Linked DNA regions of Homo sapiens: all the other regions are linked to region 3. The links come from fine-mapping of genetic effects on gene expression. A gene starts in region 3. Each other region holds a variant in brackets. All regions are shown on one strand. Distances are from middle to middle.

Region 1 (8,189 bases), 150 kb after region 3:
GCTGAGGAGTGCAGTGTGGGACTGGTGGGGAGCTCTGCCCGCGTCCCAGGCGTGGGATCCACTAGGCAAAGCCAGCTGGGCTCCTGAGTAGAGTGGGGACTTGGAGAACTTTTGTGTCTAGCTGGAGGATTGTATATGTACCAATCAGCACTCTGTGTCTAGCTCAGGGTTTGTGGATGTACCAGTCAGCACTCTGTATCCAGCTAATCTGGTAGGGACTTGGAGAACTTTTATGTCTAGCGAGAGGATTGTAAATGCACCAATCAGCACTCTGTCTAGCTAAAGATTTGTAAACGCACCAATCAGTGCTCTGTGTCTAGCAAGTCTCGTGGGGACTTTGAGAACTTTTATGTCTAGCTAGAGGGTTGTAAATGCACCAATCAGCACTCTGTGTCTAGCTCAGGGATTATAAATGCACCAATCAGCACCCTGTCAAAACGGGCCAATCAGCTGTCTGTAAAATGGACCAATCAGCTCTCTGTAAAATGGACCAATCAGCAGGATGTGGGTGGGGTCAGATAAGGGAATAAACAGGCTGCCCAGTTTGCCGCCGCGATCTGCTTGGGTTCGTTTCCACAGCGTGGAGTAAATTTTGCTGCGGCTCACGCTTTGGGTCTGCCACGTCTTTAAGAGCGGTAACACTCACCGCGGAGGTCTGCAGCTTCCCTCCTGAAGTCAGAGACCACGAACCCACCAGAAGGAACAAAGACACATCTGAACATCTGAAGGAACAAACTCTGGACACACCATTTTTAAGAACTGTAACATTCACCGTGAGGGTCTGTGGTTTCATTCTTGAAGTCAGCCAGACCAAGAACCCACCAATTCCGGAGACACAACTCCACTTTTCAGGCTTAAGAGATCCTCCCACCTCAGCCTCTTTAGTAGCTGAGACTACAGGCGTGAGCCAGCACACTCGTGTTTTTTGTAGGGACAGGGTTTCGCCATATTGCCCAGGCTGAGTTTGAACTCCTGAGCTCAAGCGATTTGCCTGCCTTGGCCTCCCAAAGTACTGGGATTATAGGCGCCTGGCCCTGTATTTCTTTATACAAAAATTTAAACTGAACCTTTAAAAAAAATGTTTCAATCATCAGGACTTTTGGAACACTTAAGAAAGTTTTTAGAAAGGGATCATTTTGCCATTTGTTAATTTATGAAATAAGCATATCCCTAACCAACTGGGATGTAGAGAATACTTGAGCATCGTTGATATTCTTGATGTCATTTACAGTGGGCATTTTTGAGGAATACTGACGGCTCAGTTTAAAAATTACTCTGTAGTATAAACTTTTGCCTAAATTTTAGTATTAACTTTGGTTAGACTGAAAGAGCAGCCAGCTATTCTGCAAGCGGATTAAGTTGTCAGAGGGTTCTGCTGAAGTGGGTGTAAACAGGAAATCTAAGGACAGTTGATAACTGCATTCTTTCACATCAGCTAAGAGAGGCCGATTGTTTTCTAGTTGCAGCAGTTTTCAAACAGTTTCATCTCTGGACTCCTTTAAACTTCTAAAAAAAATTTTTGGCTCTAATGAGCTTTTGTTTATTATTTACCATATTAAAAATTGAAACAAAAAGTTTTAAATATGTATCCATTGATTAACTTAAAAATAGTGATACACCCATTACACATTAACATGAGGGTTTTTAAGGGGAAATATAAAACAAATTTATAAGAAGAATGATAGTGTTTGATACTTTAGCAAATATGTTTAATATTGGTCTAATAGACAGTTGGGTTCTCACATCTGTATTCAATCTGTTGTGATATGCTGTTCTGGTTGAAGTATGTAAAGTATATGAAGAAAATCTGGCCTCACATGCATAGGTAGTTGGAAAAGGGAAGAGTATTTTAACAGCTTTCAAAAATAAATGTGGGTGTTCTTTCAAAGACTGCACCAAAATTTGACCAGTAGTGGTTTCTTAAAGATCAGTTGCAATGAGGAATTTAAAACCATGTTAGTGTAACTTGCCTTACTCTCTTTTATTAAAACCCATTGGTCTTAATTGCACAATGAAAGGATCTTTTTACTTATGCATACTTTTGTAACATCATGCATTGGTCACTGGGTTAAACAGTCTTCTGAATTTTGGCGCATTATACAATATAAAGAAAAGTCACATTTGTTAATACCACCACAGATCTCATAAAGAAAGGGCCTTAATTATTAAGAAGCTGTCAGACTTACTGTGTTAGATATGTTTTTCAAAATTCTTTTAGTTGAAACTTCAAATTTTATCATTAGCAAATTATTATCATCTGTTTTTCTTCAAATGACAAGCTCATTTTGTTCGTTTTTAGAAAATACCTGCCAGATACCCAATTCCGAATAACCATAGTTTTTTTTTTTATTATTTGTTCTTTCAAATGAAAATGTTTTTCTGTGGCCAGGCGCGGTGGCTCATGCCTGCAATCCCAGCACTTTGGGAGGCCGAGGCGGGCGGATCACGAGGTCAGGAGATCGAGACCATCCTGGCTAATACGGTGAAACCCCGTCTCTGCTAAAAATACCAAAAATGAGCTGGGTGTGGTGGTGGGCGCCTGTAGTCCCAGCTACTCGGGAGGCTGAGGCAGGAGAATGGCGTGAACCCAGGAGGCGGAGCTGGCAGTGAGCCTGGGGAACAGAGCGAGACTCCGTCTCAAAAAAAAAGAAAATGTTTTTCTGTGAAAAAAAGGTGCCAGTTCACTTACGACTGGAATAATTGCACGTCTTTTCCTTGAGACAACCATTGTACATTGTAACAAAAGTGCTTTATGCAAACTTCTCGCTTCATCATACAGAATATTAAAAGGACGTATACTAATGGGTGGAGATATAATGTAATTAATTATTACTGCTTTATCAAGGACACTTTAATACTGGCATTTTCTTTTTTTGCCACTGTGAGTGGTGGTAAAGAATACAAGGACAATATTGGTAATAACAGTAGTTACATAGTAGTAGTGATGCCAGTGTCTTGATATATCCTAAGACATCAGTTAGGTTTTACCCATTTTTGCTTTTGCACTTGAGCGCAGTGAAAAAAGCAAGTAACATTTTAATGTCATAATGAAAACATAGTTTGACTTTATGAACTCTTAAGAGTCTTGGGGACCCTCAGGGGTCCTGAGACCATACTTTGTGAACTAGTCTCTTACAGATTTGATTCACTGGTTTTTCAGATTTTATTTGCATAATATAATAGAGTTCTGCAAATAAACAGAACCAGTGGAGCGTTAAGGGAAGGAGATATTCAGGAATTGGCGTATGCTATTGTGGATGCTGACAAGTCCAAAATCTGTACCTAATACAGCATGACTTTTTTTTTTTTTTTTTTTTTTAAATGAGACAGAGTCTTGCTCTGTCACCCAGGCGGGAGTGAGGTGGCACAATCTCCGCTCACTGCAACCCCTGTCTTCTGGGTTCAAATGATTTTCCCATCTCAGCGTCCCAAGTAGCTGGAACTACAGGCGTGTGCCACCACGCCTGGCTAATTTTTAGTAGAAACAGGGTTTGACCATATTGGCCAGGCTGGTCTCGAACTCTTAACCTCAGGTGATCCGCCTGCCTCGGCCTCCCAAAGTGCTGGGATCACAGGCGTGAGCCACCATGCCCCACCAGCATGAGACTTTAAATAGTCCTGTGGTGCATAATGACATTTTTGTCAGTGAACGACCACATACACAACAGTGGTCCTGTAAGATGAAGTACAGTATTTTTACTGTAGCTTTTCCGTGTTTAGGTATGTTTACATATACAAATACTATTGTATTACAGTTGTCTGCAGGATTCAGTACAGTGACATGCTGTACAGATTTGTCACCTAGGAGCAATAGGCTATCCCAAAGAGCCTAGCTAGGTGTGTAGTAGGCAACATTATCTAGGTTTGTGCAAGTACACTCCCATGATGTTTGTACAAAGACAAAGTTGCCCAATGACGCCGTTCTCGGAATGTATTCCCCGTCATTCTGTCGTTATGATGTGTGGCCATTTTTAAAACTTCTTTCTTCTCAAAACTCCCCTTACCTTATTTCTAGAATTCTTCTCTTTCTTTTGCTCTATTTTGAATATATAGTTTTTTTTTTTTTAACTGGTGCCTTTGTGCTGCCTTCAGTCTTTTTCTGTCTCCTTGTTCTTATATTAAGACATAAGTGACCAGTTTCCCTTGTTACCACAAAGTGTGATTGGCAACTCATGACTGTGCTCTGACATTCAAAATTCTTTCGGTAATCAGCTACTATAAAGCAAAATAATTGTCTGAGGGGATAGAGCTGCCTTTGGAAAGGCACCAGAAATGTTGTCTCAACTCCTCAAATCTGAAATGGTGGGTCTCCCTTGGTGAAAACTGAAATGGCCAGATGAATATTCTACGTGATAAGGGGTCACCATAGGTTCTTGCATTGTTTTTGGGTAGAGATTTTTTTTTAAATAGTCTCATTTTCTTCCATACTGTGTTTTTACTTTTATTGTAAATACCATGTTTTGTAGTAGTTGATTGGATTATTAATATCTTGTTAATTTTGTTTTTAATCTTAAAACTTCACTGAGTTTAGTGATATATACTTTTAAATTTTTGTCGAACAGATTTTAAGTTTGCT[TTATGTCTTGGAAAAAA/T]TATTTACTTCCTATAAAATATAACCCATCCAGAAAACAGGTTTTTTTATACACTTGCTCTAAGACAATCTTTTAGTAAGCATTTCATAGATGATCAGTACATTTTGTTTATGTCTAGCATGCTGTTGAACTGACCAACATGATTTCTGAAATTCATCTCTGATCTCTTTTTTTAGTTTAATTTTATTTAAAGTTCCAGGATACATGTGCAGGATATACAGCTTTGTTACATAGGTAAACGTGTGCCATGGTGGTTTGCCGTACCTGTCAACCCATCACCTAGGTATTAAGCCCATGTATTAGCTTTATGTATCCTGATGTTCTTCCCAGTATGGCCCCCTGCAGGCCACAGTGTCTGTTGTTCCCCTCCCTGTGTTCCCTCTTAAAAGTGAGAACATGCAGTGTTTAGTTTTCTGTTCCTTGTTAGTTTGCTGAGGATAATAGCTTCTAGCTCCATCCATGTCTCTGCAAAGGACATGATCTTGTTCCTTTTTATGGCTGCAGAGTATGCCATGGTGTATATGTATCAAGTTTTCTTTATCCAGTCTATCATTGATGGGTATTTGGGTTGATTCCATGTCTTTGCTATTGTGAGTAGTGCTGTGATGAACATATGTGTGTGAGTATCTTTGTAATAGGATGATTTCTATTCTTTGGGTATATACCCAGTAATGGGATTGCTGGGTCAAATGCTATTTCTGCCTCTAGGTCTTTGAAGAATCGCCACACTGTCTTCCACAATTATTGAACTAATTTATACTCCCACCAACAATGTAAGTGTTTCTTTTTCTCTGCAACCTCACAGGCATCTGTTGTTACTTGACTTTTTAATAACAGCTATTCTGATTGGTGTGAGATGGTATCTCATTGTGGTTTTGATTTGAATTTCTCTAATGATCAGTGATGTTTGAGTTTTTTTCATGTTTGTTGGCTGCATGAGTGTCTTTTGAGAAGTGTCTGTTCATGTCCTTTGCCCACTTTTTAATGGAGTTGTCTGTTTTTTTCTTGTAAATTTTTTTTGTTTCTCGTAGACTCTGGATATTAGACCTTTGTCAGGTGGATAGATTGTAAAAATTCTCTCCCATTCTGTAGGTTGTCTATTCACTCTGATGATAGTCTCTTTTGCTGTGCAGAGGCTCTTTAGTTTAATTAGATCCCATTTTGTCAATTTTTGATTTTGTTGCAATGCTTTCGGTGTTTTTGTTTTGTTTTGTTTTGTTTTTTGTGAAACCTTTGCTCATGCCTGTGTCCTGAATGGCATTGTCTAGATTTTCTTCTAGGATTGTTAATAGTTTTGGGTTTTACATTTGTATTAGTCAGTTTCACACTGCTGATAAAGGCATACCTGACACTGGGCAATTTACAAAAGAAAGATATTTAATTGGACTCACAGTGCCACCTGGCTGGGGAAACCTCACAATCATGGCAGAAGGCAGGGAGGAGCAAGTCACATCTTACGTGGATAGCAGCAGGCAAAGAGAGGGCTTGTGCAGAGAAATTCCCGTCTTTAAAACCATCAAATCTCATGAGACCCATTCACTATCATGAGAACAGCACAGGAAAGACCCGCCCCATGATTTAATCGTCTCCTACCAAGTCCCTCTCACAACACTTGGGAATTACGGGAGCTGTAAAATGAGATTTGGTTGGGGATGCAGAGCCAAATCATATCAACATTTAAGTCTTTAATCTATCTTGAGTTAATTTTTGTAAAAGGTGTAAGAAAGGAGCAATTTCAGTTTTCTGCATGTGGCTAGCCAGTTCTCCCAGCACCATTTATTAAATAGGAAATGTTTTCCTCATTGCTTATGTCAGGTTTGTTGAAGATGAGATGGTTGTAGATGTGCAGTCTTATTTCTGAGTTCTCTATTCTGTGTCATTGGTCTGTGTGTCTGTTTTTGTAACAGTACCATGCTGTTTTGGTTACTGTAGACTTGTATAATTTGAAGTCAGGGTAGCATGATGCCTCCAGCTTTGTTCTTTTTGCTTAGTATTGTCTTGGCTATATGGGCTCTTTCATCCCTGATTTCTCGTTTCTTGTCCTATCCCATTTAAAGTCTTAGGGGTCAGTTGTAGAATTAATGAGTGAATGCCTTCCTGTATTAATAATATGAAATGCTACTTTATGACACACCTAGGTAATGTAATCTTCCATGAACATGAACTATCTGGCCAGTTGTTAGCAATTCTAATAATGATAACCTGATATTTACAATTAAATATTCTAGTATTATCTTTGGTTTGTAAATATCAAAATGGTAGTAACTGACAATTTCAAAGTGTAACTAAAATATGAATAGTAAAATACTCTCCATGCCTTTTTAGAGCTGCTAAAGAGAGGGAGAAATTAGGTGTGTGTTTTGTTTGTTTATTCATTTATTTATAAAAAGGAATATTGAATGCTGTTATCTTAAACTCATGTGGCTGTATTGGTAGGCTGACTTTTTTCTCAAGAAAATATTTTAGAAATTTTTGTGTCATTTAAAATATTTTCTATATTGAGATGGTCTTCTATATTTATTTATTTTTCAGGCAAGTTTATTTGGAAGCATTTCCCGTCTGGAATGTATTTGATTACAACAAAAGGGCAGGCACAATTCTATTTCTGGTAGTAAAGTCTGTTGGTTAATGCGTCCATTTATAATTACTGTCACTTTCTTTTTTTTAGAAAGACTATTAAACCATTTTGAAAACTTACATAGTTTGATATTTATTTCCAGACACTAGATTTTTTAAAAATAAAAATGTATTTGTTAAATATTAAATTTCTGAAGACTCAATAGGTCTATGAAAGCAGATAGTATCTTTATGCCATTGTGTATATCCTTTGCACAACAGATAATACAGGTCTCAGCAATACCCTGGTTGTATCATGTTGATATCTTTGGATCAAACTTGCAAAATTAGCATTATTTAGTATTTCTAGGAGTGGCATTATAGATCTTCCTGCTTTAACAGGTCTATACAAGGATATCAGCACAAAGAACTTAGTCCCAGACAACTGTACATTAATTAATGGGTTGGCCGAGGCTTGAATGCAGCTGACTTTTTAGAATATTTTAGAGAGAATAAAACTGACACTTATTGAAGGTTTATGATACACCAGTCTGCTAGATGTTTACTGATGTGTTTTGTCAATGAAACTAGCCCACAGTTCAGTATTTCCCCGTCAGTAGATAAGCATGCACTGGCCAAAGAGGTTAAGTAACATGTTCAATATTCATGGTCACTCAGGTAGTAAATGTTAGAAAGCCAAACATAGGTCTTTCCCATTCCCAATCTATGAAATTACTCATTTTTAAAAATGAATTTAACATGTATTGCTTTTTATGTTATTTAAACTTAAAATGTGGCCCAAAGGAGATATATATCAAATAATTTAACCGCTTTAGAAGTATACCATTTAAGTGCCTTTTGAAGAAAGAGACTGGGGCATAGAATGTCCAATGTCCAATATCCAGAAATGATGACTGAGCTATATTTGCAGCAGTTATGGACTTTGGTTGATGAATCAATCTTTTCGTTAGAAGTTAAGTGTTTTTCCTTTTCTGACCATGTATTTCTCATTAATAAAGCACAGCTATCTTTTTTTCTTTT
Region 2 (8,189 bases), 65 kb after region 3:
TTTTTTGGGGAAGGGGAAAAGGTCTGTAGGATAAGCTTATTTAATATGACATCAGTTGAATAAAGCCAGCTGTGAGTAATTATCTCCGATATTTGATTTCCAGCTGTTTTGTTGAACTGTTATGGGCTCTCAAGGTATTTGGATATTAATTAAATGATGACTCATTACAAAGGAGTCTTGTTTTAAATACTACTTTATAAAATAGAACATTAAAATAGACCAACTGGTACAAAGTTTTAATCTTTTCTGGAGTAACTATTTTTTCCTACCTGGTTCATTTTCATGTTTATTTTAAAGTCAATACATTTTTAACTTGGAGGAAATCATTCAGATCGGATATGTTTTGGTAATTATTTTATATAATTGTATGTATATCTATATATCTCTATCTGTATACATAAATATAATTAAATGTGTCTTCTCTTTGCCTAAAGGTTTTTGAAGTCAGGTTATCATTAGTGAATAATTCATATCAGGTTGAATATAAGAGCAGGTATTTTCATTTTAGCATGTTGGATACTGGACATCAGATTGTGTAAACAATGGATTTTTGTTTGTTTTTTTGAGAGAGGGTCTCAATCCGTTGACCAGGCCGGAGTGCAGTGGCAGGATCACAGTTCACTGCAGTCTTGACTTCAGCCTCTTGAGTAGGGAAAGACTACAGGCGCCTACCCCAATGCCCAGCTAATTTGTTTAGTTTTTGTAGGGTTGGGGTCTCGCTATGTTGCCCAGGCTGGTCTCGAATTTATGGGCTCAGGCAGTCCTCCAGCCTCTGCCTCCCAAAGTGCTGCGATTACAGGCATGAACCACTGTGCCTAGCTAACAATGGACATTTTGGAAAATGTGAAAAGAAATCACAGAGGTTACAAGAAAGATTTTTTTAAAAAGTCATTGAACAATGAAATAAGAAATTAGGAAGTAGGACTAGTCAAAAGTGGATTAGTGCTCCAAAGATGTAAGGAAAAGGGGCCGGGAGCATTGGCTCACACCTGTAATCCCAGCACTTTGGGAGGTGGGTGGATCACAAGGTTGGGAGTTTGAAACCAGCCTGGCCAACATGACAAAACCCCATCTCTACTAAAAATACACAAAATTAGCTGGGCGTGGTGGCGGGCACCTGTAGTCCCAGCTACTTGGGAGGCTGAGGCAGGAGAATTGCTTGAACCCAGGAGGCGGAGGTTGCAGTGAGCCGAGATCATGCCACTGCACTCTAGCCTGGGCAACAGAGCAAGACTCCATCTCAAAAAAAAAATGTAAGGAAAAGGGCAGAGGCATAAATCAAAACTGAGCAAACCCTCAGGGCTCTGGCAATGAGACTGGGTGTGGCAGAGGCCTGTGGGGTGAGGGGTGAGTGCGTCTAGAGGAAATGTACTGTTTTGCAGATAATAAGTATTGATCAGACATGCATTTTTACCTCTGCTGTGGGATTTTAGTCTCATTACTTTGTTGATCTACTTTGTAGTTAACCTAGAGAAGTTAACACAGCCATTGCTACAGAGCTTTCTGCCACTTGAGTTCCAGAATTCCAGAATCCAGTTTCCTAGGGATTGTGGGGAGTAAAAAGAGGTATAGGGTATGGTCCCTGTATGGGAGCAATACAGTCTTTATTGAGTAGTGTCTATATTGTCTTGTTTACTCAGGTATTTCATATATACATTAAAAAAACCGACAATAAAAATGAACATATGAAAACTTCCTTATTTGTGATACATGAGTAAATGTTGATGAGATTAGAGAAGGGGTCCAAAAAGGTTTCTCTGAGGATATGAGTTGAGTTGCCCATCAGGATGGATTGGGTAGTGGATGCTGATGTGGGCAAACACTGGAATAGACCTCAGATGCTGCATGATGTGCCTGTGTAACACAGTTGAAATTTGGTGATCAAGGGACATATTACAGCAGGGTAGGGCAACCGCCTAAAAAATGACTTGGGGTCCTTTAATTGGTTTATGTTGTACATGGTGAAAGAAGAGAAGGCCCCGAAATGACCATGGCATAGAAAATAGAAATCAAAAAGAAAAGTATGACAGGAGACTTTACAGGATTAAAAAAAACCACGACTCATTAAATGTGTGAAAAAAGAGAAAATAGTTGCTACTAAGTTGAAAACTCCTACGTGGTTTTCACTGGAATAGCTGGGACACTGGTGCAGGCACCAGAAGTAGAGAAATCTAAACATGTGGCCAGTTTTTTGGGGGAAATTTAGTGTGAAGTTTAGTTACCATTTGAAATGACGCTTCAGCAGCTTCAAATGGTAACTAATCAGCTGGGAATTGTGGTGGTTTGTAAAAAAAAGTCAGAGTCCAGGAGTCAGTTGTAAAGATAGGCTGAGAATAGATGCGATATCTTAGGGAAGGATCCTTATGAAGAAGAATGACGGTTCAAAGCCCAGCCCTGGGAGTACCTAACATGGAGAGACTGCAGAGCCCATGTTGGGCCGGGAAAGACCCAAGGGGAAGGACTGGCCACACAGCACTGGGTGCCTTCCCGAAGTTTCATACCCTTTCCTTTTGTGATTTTTTTTCTTCTTGTGTGTCACTGTCAAATTTTAAAAAATGTTCTATTTAATATTGTTTGTCTTACTAGAAAGGACAATGATTTTCTCTGTTTTGTATGCTAGTGTGTTCCTGGCATCTAGAATAGAGCTTGACACTATTCTTGGCACAAGAAGAAAAAAGGATTTGCTTTAAAGAGATCACTGGTGATCTTGGAGAAACAAATTTCAGTAAATTTAGGGGCAAAGATCAGATTCCCAAAAGTTATACAATAACTGGATAGTTGAGAAAATGGACCAAAGGAATGTACCTGTTTAATGTAGTGGTAGATTTACTTCCACAAGTATTGTTGTCTTTGATTTACTAACATTTTTCTATTACAGTAAAAATTAGGATCAACTATGATGAAATGAAATTTAAAAATAAGGTGGTGAGGCTCATATGTGTAAATATGTATGATCTTGAAATTTTGTCATGTTGTCCAGTGACGCAGTTTTTATAAAAACCTTGGTGCCATTACTCAAAACAGGTTTAGAATTTATGTTGGGGTTATTGCCAGAGTTGTTTAGTGAATTCTACAAGGAAGTTACCTCTTTACTTTCATACAACAGTATGTTGTTTTTGAGCCTGATTGAACTTAAATATATTCAACCCCTTTACCAGGCTTAAGTCTGGGTGAGTATGTTGAATGTTTTCACAAGCCAAATCTCCCCAGAAAGGCTGAGGAATTACTACTAATTACAATATTCAAAGGAATGTATTTCCAGGTATTCTTGAAGCACACATACCTATGCGTGCATTTGATAGCCAGAACATTACAGTGAATGACCAGTGAACAGTCAGGAAACAAATCCATCCTTGGCCTCCCCTTTTTATTTTTATTTTCCCTCCCCAGTTCATTGCAAAGGAGGCAGACTAGATGCCGGGCAGCCAGGCCCCACACATGGTTCAGCACAGCTGGTGGTTCTGCCAAGTTGGGTTTCATCCCCAAGAGCATGCAGATTTATTAGTACATTTTGGCAGAAGACATCACTTTATATTAAATTATTATTGAACTGTCATAAATTTAAATAGTAAAAGGGTATACTTTGAAAACGACACCTCTTTTCTAATGATAAAAGGACCTGATGATACATGTAGGATACGGTCACGTTTCATTATGCGTAGGAGGTACTCAGTAACAGTTTTCCAATGGAAAGAATGAGAAGTTATGGGTATTTATTATTTTTCATATAATTGCTTTGTAGGTAGCTTGAGGATCAAAGGCTAGAAGAGAAGAATATATGTGATAGGATATAGAAGTTTTGATATCAGCTGGCAGCAGTGGTAGAGTGGAAGAAAGCATTTGTGAATTTGGGAGTAAGAAAACTTGTCTTCTGACAACCGTTATTCATAATTGAATTTCTATCTTGCATTGTGGCCATTTGTGAGAATCTTTTATCTATTCTAGCAAACTGAGTTTCTTTGAGGACCAGAGTATATTGTACCAACCTTTGTATCCCCAAGGCAACATCCCAGCACAGTGCTTTGCACAGAGCAAGTATTCAATACTTTGAATTGACCAGTGAACTGCAAATGAAGGGAAAGGATAACATCTGAACAGATTTTGGAACCCCCCTCAACTCCCAATCTATGTGGAAATTTGAGACTAAATAAAAGTTGTCATTTGTATTAGGAAAAAAAATGTGTGTTTAATTAAATACTCAATTACACGTCAAATTCTGCTGTTCTCTTGTTTTTAAAAGTTTATTTTTAAAATTGATACATAAAAATTATAGGTATTTATGGTGTACAACGTGATTTGAAATATGCATACATTGTGGAATAGCCAAATTGAGCCAATTAACATACATATTACCTCAACTTATTTTTTGTGGTTAGAACACTTAAAATTTACTTAGTGATTTAAGAATACAATATATTGTTGTTAACTGTAGTTACCATGTTGTACATTAGAGCTCTTGAACTTACTCCTCCTAGCTAATTTTGTGTCATTTGATCAACATCTCCCCAACAGCCCCCCCTCCCCAGCCCCTTGTGACCACTGTGGGAACTCTCTACTCCTGTGAATTCAACTTCTCTAGATTCTACATATAGATGAAATCACACAGTATTTGCCTTTGTACGCCTGGCTTATCTCACTTAACATATCCTCCAGGTTCATTTATATTGTCATAAATAATAGGATTTCATTTTTTTTAAGGCTAATATTCTGTTATACCTATATACCGCACTTTCTTCATCCATCCATTGAGGGACGTTTAGGTTGATTCCGTATCTCAGCTGTTGTGAATAATGGTGCAGTGAACATGGGAGTGCAGGCATCTCTTCAACATAGTGATTTCATTTCCTTGAATATATAGCCAGTAGTGGGACCGCTTGATCATATGGTAGTCCTATTTTTAATTTTTTTGCAGGAACCTCCATACTGTTTTCCATAATGAATATACTAATTTACATTCTCATCAACAGTGAGAATTTCTCTTTTCTTCACATCCTCTTCA[A/G]TGCTCATCTCTTTTTTTTTTTTTAAACAGCCATTCTTACATGTATGAGGTTTTGTTGTGGTTTTAATTTGCATTTCTTGGATGATTAGTGATCTTGAACATTTTTTCATATACCTGTTGGCTATTTGTAGTCTTTTGAGAAATGTCTATTCAGGTCCTTTTCCTATTTTGAAATTGGGTTACTTGTGTTTTTTTGCTATTGAGTTGTTTTTCTTATATATTTTGTATATTAACCCCCTATCAGGTGTATGGTTTGCAAATACAGTCAGCCCTCCATACACTCAGGTTGCACCTGCAGATTCAACCAACCATGGATCGAAGATATTTTAAAAAACCAATAAACAAACAATACAACAGTAAAAACTAATACAGTAAAAAAGACAATACAGTATAACACCAACTATTCACATAGTATTTACATGGCATTAGATACGATAAGTAATCTAGAGATAATATATGGAAGGATGTGCATAGGCTACACGCAAACCCTATGCCATTTTATATAAGGAAAATCCTCGGGGGCGGGTTCTGGAAGCAACCCATCATGGATACTAAGGGTCAGCTTTATTTCCTCCCATTCTGTAGGTTGTCTCTTTAGCCCAACTGTTTTCTTGGCTATACAGAAACTTTTTAGTTTGATGTGATCCCATTCATCTATTTTTGATTTTGTTGCCTTTACTTTTGGGGTCATTTCCAGAAAATTATTGCCTGTACCAATGTCATGGAACTTTTCAGATGTTTTCTACTATTAGTTTTACGGTTCCAGGTCTTACGTTTAAGTCTTTATTTTGAGTTTATTTTGTGTATGGTATTAATAAGGGTCTAATTTTATTCTTCTGCATGTGTAGATACCCAGTTTTCTCAACATCATTTATTGAAGAGACTCTTCTTTCCCCCATTGTGTGCTCTTGGTACCTTTTTTGAGAATCAGTTGACTGTAAATGGTGGATTTATTTCTGATCTCTCTGTTCTGTTACCCTGTCTACTTCTTAAGTGGTCTACTATTAGAGTGTTGCAACATTGTTATTTTACTTTAAGACCAGACATTATCTAAGAAAACAAAAAAGATAAACTAAAATGCTGTTTTGAGTATGTTGTAGGAAATCTCTGCAGCCTGACATATTTTGGCAGAAGCCAAAGAGTTACTGATAACCTCCTTCACCCTGAGGCACTCCTCTCCGTTTGATTTTCATAATTACCTTTAACTTGAACAACAATAATGTTCCACATGCCAGTGTTCATAAAAGAAAGTGCCTACTACACGTCAAGGCACTGATGATTCGCTTAGAAAATCTTAGATACTCTTATTATTCCTATTTTACGGGTGGAGAGACTGAGCCACAGAGAGGTTGAGTGACTTGTTCAGGGATGCCAAGCTGGTAAATGGCAGTCAGATACTGAACTCAGTCAGTGTTGCTCAAGTGACTCATCTGCCTAGTGGCCTGGCAAGCAGAGAGTATGCAGGGGAATTGCCTGGAAAGGTGCACTGTGATTACCTGTTCTGTCCACAACATCTTCCTACATCATTTTGCAAATTTTTCGTTCTATACCAAGGCCCAGAGTTCCACTAGTAGTTCTAGAGATATCTTTCATGTAAAAGGAGTGTCTCTTAAATTTTTTTTTTTAAGAATCTTTCATGGGATAGGGTCAAAATACCTAGAATACTTTTTTCTGGAAAGTTTTCATAGAGAATAAGAGCCGGAAGTAAAAGGTAAATAATTCTGCAACTTTGCAGTCACCTCACTCACTCAGTAAGATTGCTTTAGGTAGGTGTCAGAGACAAGTGTCCCAAGTTTTTGGATTTTCATCAAGCCAAGACCATTGCCCTTCATACTACCGTTCAAGAGTTACAGCACCAAAATAGGGTAGGCAACTTAAAACATTTCTTCTGTTAAGGATATTAGATAAAACAGTGAACTACTATCTAGTATCAATATAATTTCAAGTAATGACATTATAAAAAAAAGGGAAGGTTACAGTCCCACAATAAAGGAGAACTCTTTAAATGGAATACATTAAGCTTATCAAGGATCTCAACTCATTGTCCTTAATCTCTCATTTTGCCACACACTAGTGAGAATTCTCTGGTGGACCTACATTTGGAACCTTTTCACTAGCCTTCTTTGAAATCTTTTACCAAGAAAATATTTTATAGCTTCCTTTTCCTTCTTCCTGTATGGGTCCTGTAGTTCTCGGATGCAGTAGCTGATAGACCCAACCACCCTTTATAACACTGGCCCTGAGGCAACACACATTTTAAGTTATGCACAAGTATTTTAGGAAATGTGAAGTTGGGAACCGTTCTCCTACCTTCCCTATTCATGTTCCTTTCTGATTGTGATGGCTGCTCTGCAGTAATTGACTTCATAGGATATTCACTCTTACCACCCCAAGGGCTCTTTGCTTCCTTCTGATTTCTGGAGAATCTTGGTAATGATGATCTGAGGGCTTTAAATGTTGGGGGTGGGATGTCAGAGTATCAATGTTGTGAAGGTAAAGGTCTACTTATTTATGAATGTGATGGAGTCTGTCATATAAATCAAATGTACACATGTACAATTTTAAGTTGTAATGCACGCATGCTACTTCCTCTGTAAGTGGGGGAGGTAGAACAGTTATCAGTAGGATAAGTAAAGTGAGATTCTTAGCTTCAAAGGAGAATTCAAAACATGTATTGAAAGGTGAGATACTTCAGAAACTATAACTTGCTGTCCCTTCTAGTGGAGCACTTGATTAGAAAATACATATTTTTACATATTTTTAAGTCTCTGATTCTTCTTTGAAATTCAGTAATACCCAGCATTTTCTGTAACTGCCCTCCTCTGCACCCTTTCCCTAAATAGTTTATCTGATTGGATAAACTATTCCTCTTCTCTGCTCCTTCACCTTTCATGGATAGGTCTAAAAGAGATCAATTTTGAACAGACCTAAAATTTCTTTAGCATTTTAGCTCATTTTCTGACCAATAGTGGAAGGCTTTAATTACATATGTCGAATATTCTCATTTGCTTCTCCTGTCCTCTTGAGAAATAGAAAATTTGAGAATAAGTAGTACTATTGGTGGTTGACTCCTTGGTAAAACATTCAAGATGGGAAAAACAGATGTCAAATTATTTTTGTCTTTTGTCCTAGAAAAATGGCTACAATGAAATTTTCTATATTTAAAACCTTCCATTCAAAGAGTACTTCT
Region 3 (8,189 bases):
CTAAAGTTAAAGGCAGTCCGGGAACTAGGACAAGTCATGTAGCCTATTTTAGTGTCAGTTCTTCATCTGTAAATAAGATAACACTGTCCCACTAGCCTCAGAGAGTTGCAATGATGAGAATAATCTTAAATATAACTACCATTTATTGAGTATATACTGTTGTTAAACCACTATGCAAGGCACTTTGCATGTATTATCTTGGATCGTCACAAATCTTCAGGGTATGCAACTTTTTCTTTTTTTGTGACAGGGTCTTGCTCTGTTACCCAGGCTGGAGTGCCATGGTGTGATCATAGCTCACTGCAACCTTGAACTCCGGGGCTCAAGATAACCTCCCACCTCAGCCTCCTGAGTAGCTAGGACTGCAAGTGCACCCCACCATGCCCCGCTCCTTTTTTTTTTTTAAGTTTTTGTGCAGCCAGTGGTCTTGCTATGTTGACCAGGCTGGTCTTGAACTCCTGGCCTCAAGCTATCCTCCTGGTTCAGCCTCCCAAAGTGCTGGGATTACAGGTGTAAGCCACTTTGCCTGGCCAGACTATTCAATTTGTACTCTCTTTTTATAAAACAGAAAACAGGCTCAGAGAGGTTAAGTTTCCTCTCCCAGTTTTCTCCCCGCAACCAGGGACACAAGTGAGATAATGTATGTAAAAATCTCATACAAATACAAGGTAACATGAACTACTTCATGTATCCATTTAATACCTATTTGTTGGCTGCCTGTCTTGTGTTGAGGATATAGCAGTAAATAAAAGGGACAAACATCCCTGACTTAGAAGCTTACATTACAGTGGAGGGATAAAACAATAAATAAAATAAATAAGTATAGATGGTTCTCAATTTACGATGGTCAATAAATTGACTTTCGATTTTTCCACTTTATAATGGGTTTATCAGGGTATTAAATGCATTTCTGACTTACAATATTTGCGACTTACAATGGTTTCTCAGGATGTAACCCCATCCTAAGTGGGCAAGCACCTGTACAATATACAGTATGTTAGGTGGTAAGTAAAGCGACGAAGATAACCAGAGTGTATGGAGTTACAGGGAAGGTGACATTCAAATGAAGATATGATGACAATGAGGAACAACATTCTATATTTTGGTTGTTGTGTGTGTGCATTTTTCTTTTTGTTTTTTGTTTTTGTGGGTGCAAGTGGGGTGGGGAGAGGGGGAGAGATAATCCAGGCAGTAGAGGGAACAGCAGATGGAAAGGTCATGAGACTGGAATTTGCTGTTTCAGAAACAACATGGAGGCTAATGTGCTTGGGAACAGAATAGTAGAAGAGGTCAGAGAGATAAAGGTCCATAGGATATTCAGGCCATGGTAAGACTTTGGCTTTTACCTTGAGTGGTATGAGGAGCTAAGCAGAGGAATGATTTGAGAAGGAGTGAAAAGAATTCACACTTTGGCTGCTGTGTTGGAAATGAACTGTATGGCAAGCAAGGTTAGAAAGAGGGGGACCAGGTGGGTGGTTATGACAAAGTGCTGGCCAGACATGATGCTGGATTGCACCAGGGTCATGGCAGTAGAAGTGGTAGATAAAGGTTAGAGTTCAGATATGGCATTCTGGAGGTTGAGCTGACGATTTTTACTGACACTTTTGAGGTATAACAGAAAGAAAGGAGTCAAGGAAGTCAACGTTTTCACCCAGGAAGTGAGAATGGTGTAGATGTGATTAACAGAGGATGGGGAAGGCTGTGGGTGTCTGAGACAGGAGATCTGGAGCCTGGTTTGCACATGTGAATTCTGAGATGTCTATTAGACACCAGGTGGAGATGTCAGTTATATTTTTTCACTTCATTGGGTTTGAATTCTTTTATCTGCCTCTCTCCTTTTTTCAGAGCTGTATTGGCACTTATTCATGTTCCTTTGCTTTCAAGGTAGTGGCCTATGTCATAGAGAATTTGATGTTGGCGCTCAACTAAGAGGTGAAAGAGAAATATAGAGAAGCAGTTCCAGCAAGAGTAATATAAAAAGGTCTACAGATACAATTTGTAACTCAGATTCCCTTTCACAAGGTTGGGCAGGGACAGTCCCTTTGCTAGGAAGTCACACAAGCTGTTTAGTGCACACAGGTGACTTAAGGAACCCCAAAATGTTAGCTGACAATCTATTCCAAGTGTTTAAACTAGATGTTGAAAATCATGTTTGAAAAGTTCAACGCAGTAGCTCATACATAAAACTCATTGTGTCTATAGATATCAAAATAAGAACTTGTGGGGGGTGGGGGCAAACAAAAATAAATCCCTGGGACCAGAACAGCAGAGTGGTCCCCGATGCTTGGGCTGACCTTAACACACCTCTACGTGGCCGGGGCAAGGAGTGGGGGGGAGCTGAGGGAATCAGCAGGAGCGGTGACATCTTGAAGGACGAGGTATTGTTTCTGCACCATGTGGGTCCGGTTTGGAAATTTGAGCATCTAGAGGAGGAGGCTTGTTCTGTCCAAGGCAAAGCCAGACCTACCAATAAATGTTTCTGATTATGTCACAGAACTTGCCATCCTGGTCTGTCGCTAAGGAGTGATCAACTTTAAATCTGGAGTGTTTGTTGGTCTAGGGGTGGTAGTGGGTCTGGTGTTGAAACCTCTCTGCCTAATTTCGTGGTCATTTTACTGTCTGAGGTGCCAGAGTGGGCTTGGAAAGCAGGGGAGGGTGCAGCAAATTACAAATAAGCAAAATAAATCCTAAGAGGATTTATCGCCACAGAAGCAACTCGGACGCAACTCTTGGGCTCAAAAAGAATGCCCAGTACAGCCCGGGCTGGTGGGCCGGTCTTTTGCCCAAGGTTAGCTTTCAGCCCCTGGGCGGCGGCGTGGCGCCAGGAGCGGGCGGGGAGCAGCGACCCGACGCGGCTGGGTCTCCTAGTAGGGCGCGTCGGGTGTGGGGAGGGGGCGCGGCGTGAGACAGTGGGGGACACTGCGTGAGGAAAGCCCTGCGCTTCTCTCCGGGGCACCAGGACTTGCGCCCCCTCTTCGGGTCCAGGCCGCGCGCGGGACCCGACAGCCCGGCCGAGGGCTCCGCGACCCACTTGCGGCCAGAGCGCTGCTCACCTGGGCGCCGCCGAAGGTGCCGCTCAGACGCGAGGGCGCGGCCGCTGGCGGGCGGGGAGCGGGGAGGCGGGACCCGGCGCGACGGGGCTGCCCCGCCCCCCGATGATGCGGCGGCCGCCGACTCGCCCCCACGCTGTCACTCATTCCTCACCATGGTTGCAGCACAAAGCAACAAGCCCCAGAGGCCGCTTCCTCCCTGAGGAGCGGCTCCGGCGGCCGGAGAAGGCGCAGGAGGAGGAAGAGGCGGAGGAAGAGGAGGGGAATCGCCGCTTCCCAAACACTCTCTCCGAGGGGGCTGTGCGCGGCTCTCGGCTTTCGGCCCTCGGACGCCCGCGCCGGGAGTCCGAACCCGGGCTGTCCGCGGCCCCCTCTTCCCCCTCCTCCGCCCCGCGCAGACGAGGAACAAAGTTGCCGAGAGCGACTGGGCCGGAGGGCTGCAGCCCGGGCCGGGTGCTCTGGCCGCGGCGGCGCCGGCGCCGGGGCAGCTCCGCTCCGGGCGCGCTGATGGGGGGAGGCGGCGGCGGCGGAGCCCACAGCGGCGGCCCGAGCAGCAGAGGCGGCGGCGGCGGCGGCTGGGCGGCCCGAGGGGATGCAGCAGCAGTCGGGAGGGACGGCCGAGCCCAGTAGACAGAGACCAGGAGCGGCGGCCGAGGCGATCGGGCTTCGCAGCGCCCGGACCTGAGCCAGACCCACCTGGTCCGTCCTCCCGACCGGCGGCCGAGGCGCCCGAGGACTGGGGACGCGGAAGATCCAAGTGATTCTCGGAGACCCCTGGGCGGCGGCTGCGCAAGCCCCTGAGAGGAGGGGGCGACCCTCAGCGCCGTGGGGGAGGAGGCTCCGCCTGCCCACAGCCCTCCCCACTGCCACTCGTACCTCCCTAAAAATAACTCGGGCCCGCTGGGGCCAGGAGGAGCCGCCACTGTCCCCCGAGTGGAGCCGGGGAGGCGTGTCGAGCCAGGGCCGGAGGAAGCCGGCGGAGCGGCGAGGAAGAGGAGGAGGAGGAGGAAGGGGAGTTCCGCCTGCGGGCCGCATCGCACGGCAGCCTAGGGGCGCCGCGACCCTCCCGGCTGCGTCCAGCCCCTCGCGCCTGTACCGCGCTCTCGGCCGCCGGGCCCAGCCGAGCCGCCCCCCCGCGGGCCCCGCGCCGCCGCCGCCGCGGTTTGGCTGATTAGTCGCGGGCGGGCGGGCGGGCGCAGCGCGCAGGGCGGAGGCAGCAGCGGCGCTGGGCCGGGAGGAGGCCGGCCAGGGTGCGGAGCGGCCCCGGCCCGCTCCCAGAGGGGAGATGGCGTCCTACGTAGATAACAGCTTCCGCCAGGCGGTGATGAAGAATCCCCCCGAAAGGACCCCCCAGGTGAGAACGCGGCGGCCGCCTGCCCTTGGCCGGATTTCTGCCTCGCAGGCTGCGTCTTCCCCTGTCCCCCCACCTCCTTCCTGACACAGTTCGCCCCGAGCACCCCACTTCTTGCATCAGGACCCCCAACTTCCAAAGGCATCCCACCTCCGAGTCTTTTACTCCGCCTATCCTGGTTTTATTTTTCCCTCTCCTTGACATTCTGCTCCTTAACTCTTCCCTCCCCATGACTGACCTTTCCCACTATGTTGCCCAGCCGAGAGAGAGAGAGAGAGAGAGAGAGAGAGAGAGAGAGGGAGAGACAGAGAGAGAGAGAGAGAGAGTGTGTGTGTGTGTGTGTATGTGTGTGAATGTGTGAATTCTCTAGCTTTCCCTCTCCCCAGCCGCCCTCCGTGGCCTCTGAATCTCAGGGGATGGAGTCTCATCTCCCCTCGGGCAGCGACTCTTGCTCCCTCTGACTCCAGATCCGTTCCTCCCCTTGCAAGTGACCCTTGGAGTTCAGTGGTGTTTGAAAGGTATAGGAGGAAACCTGTACGGTTGTGCTAAAGACAAATCCATGCTGACCTTCAGTAAAACATTGAGGTGTTTGTATGTTTACTGTTTTGCTTTTATTTTTTAAAGGATACTGCTTTCAATTGAAGGGAAAAAAAGTTGAATAGCTAAGTTAGTGCTTTTAGTTTAAATTGCAGACATAGCTGCAGAGCAGGCATGTTCCAGTACACCCTCGGGAAGGGCACCCTGCGGATTCTTTTGGTGTTGCACAACCTTGTCAAAATTAGATAAGTTTGTTAACCTTTATACATTTGTTTACCTGCAGGCTTACTCTTCTCTTACTTATAGCGGCTGATAGGGTTGGATTTGGTTGTCTCAAGTTTTACTGGAGAGGGGGAAATTTTATAAAAATGTGGTAGCTTAATTTTCTCCGCCTTTAGTTGCTGACTGGATAATGACGCATATTCCTAAGCGTTGGGATGGTGACTATAGGAGATCCTGCCTGCCAACCCTCTTAAGACAAATAAGCCCTCCTGATCCTTGGGACCATCAGACATTTAGGATCTAATGCTTGAAAGTGTTGCTTCGCTTGTTAGATGTTGGATGCCATCTGTTCAAATCCAAATGCTCTCCTTCTCTGATGTTGATTATTATTTACTGTGGGGAGAGCATAATAAAATAGACTCTTCCCCTGGCTGCCTTTGGACAAGCCCCAAGAGTGGCACCTGGTACCGTTTTTGATTTTTCATTTTCCTTGATGGAGCTGTCACATCTGGGAGATCATGGATAGATTGCACATATTTATCAAACGTGTGGAAGATGGCTGTAATTTTACAAGAAAATTTATCTGTCTCCAGAAAGTTCCCATTCTAAAAGACTATTTTTATCCCAACAAGGAATGTCCTGCATTGATCTTGTTCTTCTCTTGGTGTTGCACACGCTGCCTTTCCTATGCCTTTCTCATCTATTTGTTTTAAAATGGTCAGTTGGATCAGTCTTCTGCATCTGAAAATGCACATTCCCTGTCTCAGTGTGAAGGAAAAGCAGATTTCAGTGAGATATTTCATTTCCTTTCAAGAATATTGTTTTAAGTGCCAAGTGAAATTACGCATGCTGAGAATATTAGAACCTAGCAAGGCTGGTCAGAAAATGATGTCAGAGGCCTTTGGTGGAAATTAGAGAAGGGGGAAGTGGTGCATTTGGTTGATTAGTTAGAAGAATAACAATGACTAAAACCTACTATCAGGTTGGGGGGCGGGTCACCAAACAAGACTAGAAGAGACAAAACCTCCACTGTGACTGTGGGCCCACTGTGCCAAATAAATGAACTGTTAAACTTTCCTGTTCCCCTGCCAGTTGTGTAGAATAGAGTAAAAACTGACCCAACACAGAACTTGGCCTGGGCCAGCTACTACTAACCCACGACATGAAAGCTTTATTGACAGTCGGAAGGCAGCCCATTTGCCCTACCAAACCTTCATAGAAAAAGTAAACATAAGGAAACCTACCAAACATTTCAAACATTCCTAAGTGTCAGCCCTATTAACTTTGATGTTCGTTTGGTTATTACTACAAATCCCCACGTTTATTTCTTTTCAAGAGAAAGTTGTTCGAAATGTGAACGTTTTCCATCTTTACCTGACTGGCCAGGAGTAATCTTATAAAAATTTGAAATTTACTCAAAAATTATAAAAAAAAAAGTTTTTGTAGAAGGTACTTTTTATGTTAAGAATGCTTTGTTAATGGAACGCTGGAAGATTTTCCATACAGCCTTGTCTTATAAATGTTTGTGAGTTCGAATTTTATAATATTAGAAAAGCAACCATGTTAAATAAGCTTGATATCATGAACAGAAGGACAGGAATTAGGAAAGTTTTGCTGTTTTGCTTCCTTCTGTTTCTGAGGATAGACTCGATAAAGGAGTTTGCATGATTCTCGTTATAGGCAAAAGGAAAAGAATTGGGGAACATATGTAATTTTTTTTCCTGCTGTTCATTTCTGTTTGTTTTTTAAAGGCTTGCTGGCCTCATTCATTTCCCAAGCTCCGTGAAAACATAGTTTTGTATTTAGGTCAATCAATTGCCTAGAAGTAATCCTGATGTCATTGGTGTAACCTAAGAAGTTGGCTAGAAGAGAATCTAGGGGTGGGAAGAGTACCAGGAACTTTCATAAATTGGGAGCTTTTCATGTCCACCTGCACAATGGAAACGCATTTCAGTTATATCTTTAGAGAGGGGGAATAGTAAGGAGAAATACCAAAAAAATTATCATCTAAGTTTTAGCCAGGTTATACATACTCAGTTTCAAGAGACTATCACTATTTCACCTGATATTGTGAGAGGAGGAGGAAAACTCTAATCCAATGTGTGTCCCATATTGTGTGTCTGGAAACCTGGCTGAGTTCTAGTCAATGGGGCATTGTATTCTAAATAACAAACTTCCTTGAAAATAATGAGCCCTGAAAACATTCTACTGATATTTTTCAGTGCACCTCTGTTGAAAAACAGGACTCTTAAGTAATTGCTTTATTTAACCATTTGGGTTTATGTCTTTAATCACTTAAATGAGAAGCTTGGTCACCAAGGCAATTTGGTGAAGTAAAAGATGTAAATAAATTACAAACAGCTTTTATCCCCCAAGGCTTATACAATAAAATGGTTTTTCTAAACCATTTTGTTAACTTGTTGAGTTCAGGCCCTTTGAAATTGCTTCTGTAGAGTGTCTAAATGCATACCATTTTCAGTTTTTCAGGTGAAACATCTATTGCAAAACTGTTTCTTCTCTTTAAAGACCTAATGTAATGCATTTTTAGCTAGTTGTAAAAGTTACTGTTAAAAATGTTATGTGTAAAATAACCCCCACCCCATCTCCTCCTATTTAATAATCTTACTTTTTTTTGGGCTATTACAACTTTTGATATAAGTACTAACTCATTGATGTGTTATAAAGAATACAGGACTTAATTCATTGCTAAGTACTTGGTAGAATTCATCGTGAGTCATAATGAGAGGGCTGAAAAAAGTAACTTTAGCTCAGAGAACTGTAAATTATGAGAAACGGCATGAAAGAATATCTCTGACAAATATTTAACTTTCAAATCTAATGGAAGAATTGTGTCTGTTATAGTTAAATTTTCCATTTGAGTTTCTTTTTACCATTGCTTATAAGCAGACTCATATTTGTCAGCTTATACTCTCATTATATTTTAGCCCATTTTGGGGCTCTAGTAATATTTGTTTCTTAAATAGTTTTTGTTCATAGAATACAACTAAACTATCTGTATGCCATTTAAA

Direction of the effects. Alleles are on the strand shown, and positions count from the first base shown. SD is a standard deviation of normalised expression in the study named. Not every link is listed here.
As copies of T replace TTATGTCTTGGAAAAAA in region 1, the expression in monocytes after R848 of the gene that starts at base 3,252 in region 3 goes down (large effect, 1.0 SD a copy in Quach 2016).

What was found. PIP is the estimated chance that this variant, and not a neighbour inherited with it, causes the effect.
Region 1: its variant is the best candidate, but not a certain one, in a credible set for the expression of RAPGEF2 in monocytes after R848 (Quach 2016, PIP 0.55).
Region 2: its variant is the best candidate, but not a certain one, in a credible set for the expression of RAPGEF2 in whole blood (TOPMed, PIP 0.71).

The regions. Positions count from the first base shown.
Region 1 is chr4:159,251,304-159,259,492 of GRCh38, forward strand. The region is part of intron 7 of RAPGEF2 (Rap guanine nucleotide exchange factor 2); the gene reads left to right. Among named protein-coding and RNA genes, the nearest start is that of MIR3688-1, 130 kb to the left of the region's middle. The variant TTATGTCTTGGAAAAAA/T (reference allele first, on the strand shown) is at 4,577.
Region 2 is chr4:159,165,072-159,173,260 of GRCh38, forward strand. All of the region lies in intron 1 of RAPGEF2 (Rap guanine nucleotide exchange factor 2), which reads left to right. Among named protein-coding and RNA genes, the nearest start is that of MIR3688-1, 40 kb to the left of the region's middle. RefSeq lists enhancers at 4,554-4,663, 4,904-5,013. The variant A/G (reference allele first, on the strand shown) is at 5,000.
Region 3 is chr4:159,099,828-159,108,016 of GRCh38, forward strand. RAPGEF2 (Rap guanine nucleotide exchange factor 2) reads left to right here and starts at 3,252. Exons shown (of 30, transcript NM_001394067.2): 1 at 3,252-4,404. The coding sequence starts at 4,336. RefSeq lists an enhancer at 2,402-3,093 and silencers at 2,742-3,281, 3,412-3,631, 3,672-3,961, 3,710-4,004, 3,972-4,391.